2 separate regions of the Homo sapiens genome follow, and region 1 is linked to region 2. The links come from fine-mapping of genetic effects on gene expression. A gene starts in region 2. The other region holds a variant in brackets. All regions are shown on one strand. Distances are between the middles of the regions. Region 1 has its middle 43 kb from the start of OGFRL1. Region 2 holds the start of OGFRL1 (opioid growth factor receptor like 1).

Evidence for each region.
Region 1: its variant is fine-mapped to the expression of OGFRL1 in whole blood (TOPMed, PIP above 0.99).

What each region holds. Positions count from the first base shown.
Region 1 is chr6:71,243,946-71,246,965 of GRCh38, forward strand. No RefSeq gene overlaps it. Among named protein-coding and RNA genes, the nearest start is that of OGFRL1, 43 kb to the right of the region's middle. The variant G/A (reference allele first, on the strand shown) is at 1,727.
Region 2 is chr6:71,287,053-71,289,777 of GRCh38, forward strand. It overlaps OGFRL1 (opioid growth factor receptor like 1), which reads left to right and starts at 1,759. Exons shown (of 7, transcript NM_024576.5): 1 at 1,759-2,118. The coding sequence starts at 1,885. The region is part of intron 3 of LOC124901339 (a long non-coding RNA gene); the gene reads right to left. RefSeq lists a silencer at 1,412-2,471.

The DNA of each region.
Region 1 (3,020 bases), 43 kb before region 2:
CAAAATCTCAGAAACCTCCAATAAAGAACTTATTTACGTAACCAAACACCACCTGTCCCCCCAAAACCTATTGAAATTAAAAAATAATACTAAAATAAGGAATTTTTCCTCCAGATATGCTCACACATGGGCACAAAAATACTTATATAGAATGTTCATTTTAGCACTGTTAATAACAGCAAAGAGTGGGGGCACAAACAGAAGCATCAACTGGAAGATCTTAATCAAACTAAGATCTATAAAATGCAGTGTATAACCTCCAAGATATTTTGCTAAATGAGAGGAAAGGTGACATGGGATATATATGTACTATTCCCGCTATTAGGGTTTACATTGTGTTGGGGGGACAGTGGCAGGGTGCATGGGTGTAATACAAGTATCATTGCTTGTGTGTACATTAAGCATATCTTGAATTATACACAAGAAACTGTTTACCATTGGCAGCTTTTGGAGACGGAGGTTAGAGATTTTGAGACTGAAGTCAGAAGGAGAATTATTTTTCATTGTATATTTGTTTTCACTTAATTTTTTATGCAAACAGAATTTTCCACCCAAAAGAAACTAATTTTTAAACATAGTACAATATTGGATGATTAAATTAAAGAGACTCGTTTAGCTGCTCATATGAGAAGGATTGAGATATCCCTCAATCTTGCATGGTAGGCAGGACCCTTTTAGTGTAGTCTAGGGGCTTGTGAGAATGGAGCTGCCCAGGGCATGGTGGCTCGGAGTCACTTCAGAGATCCAGAGGACCCTCTGAGTATGGAAGGAAGACTTGGACTCACTAAACTTGTTGTTAACACAATTCGAATTTAAAACAACACCTGAAACCCATGTCTGTATTTCTTTCATATTTTATGGCTGTCTTCTCTAAACCCCACTATTTATTCAGTACCATCTCTAGCTTGCATTTGAGCTAAAATGTTGCTTAGACTTGTTAATTTTAAAACCAGCTTCTTGGTTTCTAAAATTCATGACATTTTCTTAATTCTCGTACAGAATACCTGCACTCCAGGTAATTTGCCTAGAGTGCATAGTTTTACAGACACTGTTTAAATGGTGCATGTTGAAAGCCTGGCAGAGAGGTTAGCTGGGAAAGATTATCTTGTGTCGTGGGTCTATTCAATACTCCAGATACTCCTAATGTCATCTCAAAGAGGCCTTTCCTGATACCGAATCTACACAAGGAAACCACCCTCCAGCCCCTTTAACTCCTGATAGCAGTGTTAATATTCTTCATAGCTCTTATCATAATTTGCGGTAATTTTATTTCTATATCTTTTTTACTTTATGTTCTGACTCCTTTACCAGAATGTAAGCTCCATGAGGGCAGGGATCATGGATATTTTGTTCACAAACATGTCCCAGTACCCAGCATAAGTGCTTATTAAATATTGAAATGGGAGGAGTGTTCCTTTATCCCCCTCGCCGGGTGTGCGCCAGGGGTGTGGCTCGCTTCTTTGGTGCTCCGCTGCTCAAACCACTAGGGGAAGCATGCAGACGGGCAGGTCACGGGGAGCGTTTTTGGGCTTCGACCCCATGGCAGCATCTAGGGTGAGTGTTTCCAGCTCGCGAAGCCCCAGTGGGCGTGTGTTACAGTGCGCTCTTTCCGTTTTGCGGTCTGTAGTTGGCTTGTGTTGATCAGCGCAACTAGACCCTCTGCCTTATCGAAAGGACACAGGGCCTTCTGTATCCCCGGTTCTTGCCCTAGTGTACCAGAAAAATC[G/A]GATCACATGTGGGCTTGGAGGATGGGTGCAAAGTTTTATTGAGTGGTGGAGGTTGCTCTCAGCGAGGTGGATGGGGAGCCAGAAGGAGGATGGGTTGGGAAGTTGGTCTCCCCCTGGAGTCGGGCCACCCAGCAGCCGGGCCACCCAGCAGCGGGACTCTCCTCTAACCACCCCAGCTGAATTCTGCCTTGTCCCGCCACCGATGGCCTGCCGATGTCTGCTGGTGTCTGTGTGTTTGCTTTTCTGCTCCTCTTGACGACCAGCCATTTGTGTCTGTGCCCGCTACGGTCTCTCGGGTTTTTATGGGCACAGGATTGGGGGTGTGGCAGGCCAAAAGGCAACTTTATGGGCACGGAAACAGAAATGCTTGTCCTCACTTAGGTCCATGGGCACAGGCCCGAGGGAGCCCTCCCCAGGGACCCCGCCTTTCTCTGCTTAGCACTTCCCTACCCGCCTCCTGTATCACTATGAATCAATGTCCTTGGATCAAGTCAGACTACACATTTAGAGAATGACTTTTTTGTCATTGCTTTTGTAGATACGTTTTTTCAATTGTTAGCCATGAGTTTTTATCTTAGGTTGTTTTCAGAATTAGCTATGCAAATTTAATTTCTCTATTTGCTGTGAAACAAATATTGAGGTTATTATTGGTTAAATCTTACTCCTATTGTCACCCAGGAGCTGTTTCTCACCAGGAAAATTTATTCTGACAAATATTTTGTGGGTACCCTAATTTCAGGTAATGATATTTAATGAATGTTTTATGATTTAAAAAGTTTCCCTCTTCATCAGGGCTAGGAGGAAGCTCTAGGGTATCTGCTCACACACAGCCGCTCTGCTGATGTTTATGGTTGCCATATGCTGCCCCTTCCTCTTTTGGTTCTGTTTTATTAATCTTATAATAAACATCTTCTCTTTCAATAATTCACCTCAAATACTTTTTGATAAGATATGATGCAAATACATTAAATTATGAAAATAAATTATATTTTTTCTATTTTTGTTAATTTTCCATTTCATTGGGTCTCTACGGCTAAGGTTTGAGTCCATGACATTTTTGGGTTTTGGCTCATTATGATCACCATCTGGTCTCTCTCTGCCCTTAATCTTTTCCCTATTTTCTCCTGTTTCCTCTCACCAAAATGCTGTCACCAAACACATCTTTCTTTCCCACTGAACTACTGTCACTGCCACCTCCTGTATCATGCACTGTCCCAGAAGATATTGCGCTAAGCCATAAGCAGTTTCCTCTTCAGCTTGTGCTTCCTTTGCTGTTTCTTCTTTGTCCTGCTT
Region 2 (2,725 bases):
AATTTTTATATTTTTTTGTGGAGATGAGGTTTCGTCATGTTGGCCAGGCTGGTCTTGAACATCTGACCTCAGGTGATCTGCCCGCCTCGGCCTCCCAAAGTTCTGGGATTACAGGCGTGAGCCACCGCACCCGGCCCCAAAAGTCTTTTTGTGCACCCCGTGTCTATTTCTTATTAGTTTCAGAGCTTTTCCCAGTCATAGGATCACAGAAGGTCAGAGCTGGAAGGGCTCCCAGAGATCTGGTTTCATTTTACAAATGAGGAAGTTTAGGTTCATGTGACCTACTTAAAGTCAGAAACTGATTAGTGACAGAGCTACAGCCTAGATGTCTTGTTGCAGTGCATGAAGAGCTTAGGTAATCCTGATTTATCCATGGAATAGGCAGCTGGTTTACCTGATTCTTCCCTTAGAAACAGTCCATCTAACATGATTTGGCTTCCTACTTCATCATGAAACATTTGAAAAGAAACTATTCATTCCAAGTTCAACAGTTTAATCTTCAAATATCTAGCTCATCTTTCTTAGTCCATATTTAACAAATGTTTACTGAGCATCCACCAAGTTGACAGCACTGTAAATACAGACACACTTTCAGACGGGGGCTGCCTGCAAAGAGGCTTCCCTTCTAGTTAGAAAGCCAGAAGACACATTTTACAACAGTCACTTTTCTCTGGGTCACATATTTGATAATACTACCTTATCTTTACGTACTTCTATAGGCTTATGCCTGTAATCCCAGCTATTGGGAGGCTGAGGCAGGAGAATTGCTTGAAACCAGGAGGCGGAGGTTGCAGTGAGCCGAGATCGCGCCTCTGCACTGCAGCCTGGGCAACAGAGGGAGACTCTGTCTCAAAAAGAAAGAAAAGAAAGAACAGAACAACAGAACAGAACAGAACAGAACAGAACAGAACAGAACAGAACAGAACAGAACAGAACAGAAAAAAGAAAGAACTTCCCTAACACAGTTCTCCCTCCTCCTTTCATTTGCAGAACAGACCACAGGGCCGAGGCTTCTTCCATTAGAAACAGCCCATCTGTTCTACTGATTCTGAGATTTTTGCCTACACGGAGCACCAATTTGTAGTGGGTGTAAGGTTACCCGCAAATCAATGTGATGGTCCAGTTGTTACTGTTCCTTTTGTTTCACGAGCGATTGCTCATTAGATGAGGTGACTGATAGCTCTGACTTTTTCTAGACCACAAGGACTCTAGGTGGCTGCCCTAAGTACAGTTGTGGCAGCTGGGATTTCCTGTTTATATGGTGCCCGGCACCATCAGCTTTTGTCCTCTGCTGCAGCTAAAGTGTCTTCCTCCTGGACCAGGGAGAGGGGGAGGGGGTGTGGACAGGACCCGCCTGCTGACGGTGACACCTCTTCGACACCACGTCCACGCCAGTCCTCAGCTCCAGGAGCTGGGCGGGATCCCTCATCCCGCTCAGCTGGGAGATGCCCCGGGAGGGCGTCCCCCGGCTCCGGGCGGCGAGGGTAGTAGCCGACCCCAATCCACTCCGGGGGCCGCCGGGGGCCGCGTGAAGGCAGGTGTTCCGGGGAGAAACGTGGAAGGGAGGCGCGGCCTGGGGCCGGTGGCGCTCGGCTGGGGGCCGCAGTTGGCTCCCCTGGGGGCTCTGGGCGGCGGCAGCTCCCGCCTGTGGGGAGGAGAAGGAGCCGGATGGGCGGGTTCAGGCGCGCGCGGCGGCGGTCCCGGGGCCGCCGGCTCCTCCCCGCGAGGGTGCCTGTCCGCCGCTCGCCGCGCTGAGGCAGTGCGGGGCGGGCGCGCCTAGGCTGCCGCCCAGCGCCCTCGCCGCGGCCATGCCCGGGCCCTAGAGCGCCTGCCGCAGCTTGCGCCCCGCAGCCCCGCAGCCCCGCGCCCGCCGCCGCCTCTTCAATGGGCAACCTGCTCGGCGGGGTCAGCTTCCGCGAGCCCACCACCGTGGAGGACTGCGACTCCACCTGGCAGACCGACTCGGAGCCCGAGCCCGAAGAACCAGGGCCGGGCGGCGGCAGCGAGGGCCCGGGGCAGGAGTCCGAGCAGCCCGCGCAGCCCCCGGAGCAAGCCGGCGGGCGGCCCGGCGCCAGCCCCGCGCCGGACGAGGACGCCGAGGCGGCGGGCGCCGAGCAGGTACGCGGCCCAGCGGTGGCCTCGGGTCGGGCTGGGGCGCCCCGACACCCCAGAGGGGCAAGTGCCAAGCCGCCCTCGCGCTCGGAGGCCAGGGGCGCCAGGTGGCTGCTCGCCGCTGCGACCCGACCCCTCCGCGCCGCGGCTGACCTGTCTCCCGGTGGAGCCCGGGGGCCTGCAGGAGCCCAAAGCGCCGGACCCTCCCACTGCCGGCCTGGGGCCTGGCCGAGGGCACGGCGAGGAAGTCCCTCAAGGCAGAACCCAACTTGAATGGGTGTTTTCTTTGCCTCTGCAGAGCAGCTGGATTATGCGAAGGTGGGGTGGGAGGAACCTGTCTAAAAATAGAGGATTTTGACAACCCCTCTAGTGTGTGTTATTGGTAAAAAAAAAAAAAAAAAAAAAAAAAAAAAAAATTACTCAGAATAAGGTGGGGCTACAAGTGCAAGCAGCCAGCGCTCTCCCCTACAGTGGGGTCTAAGCCGTCAGAAGTGTAGGCCCTCATCTGAAGTTCATACGTCACTGTTCTGCCCAACTCAGGCCTTTCAACCTAGGATTCAGGGCATTCTTCACGAATCTTATTTCACCAGAAGACTTGTTGATCCAACTGTGT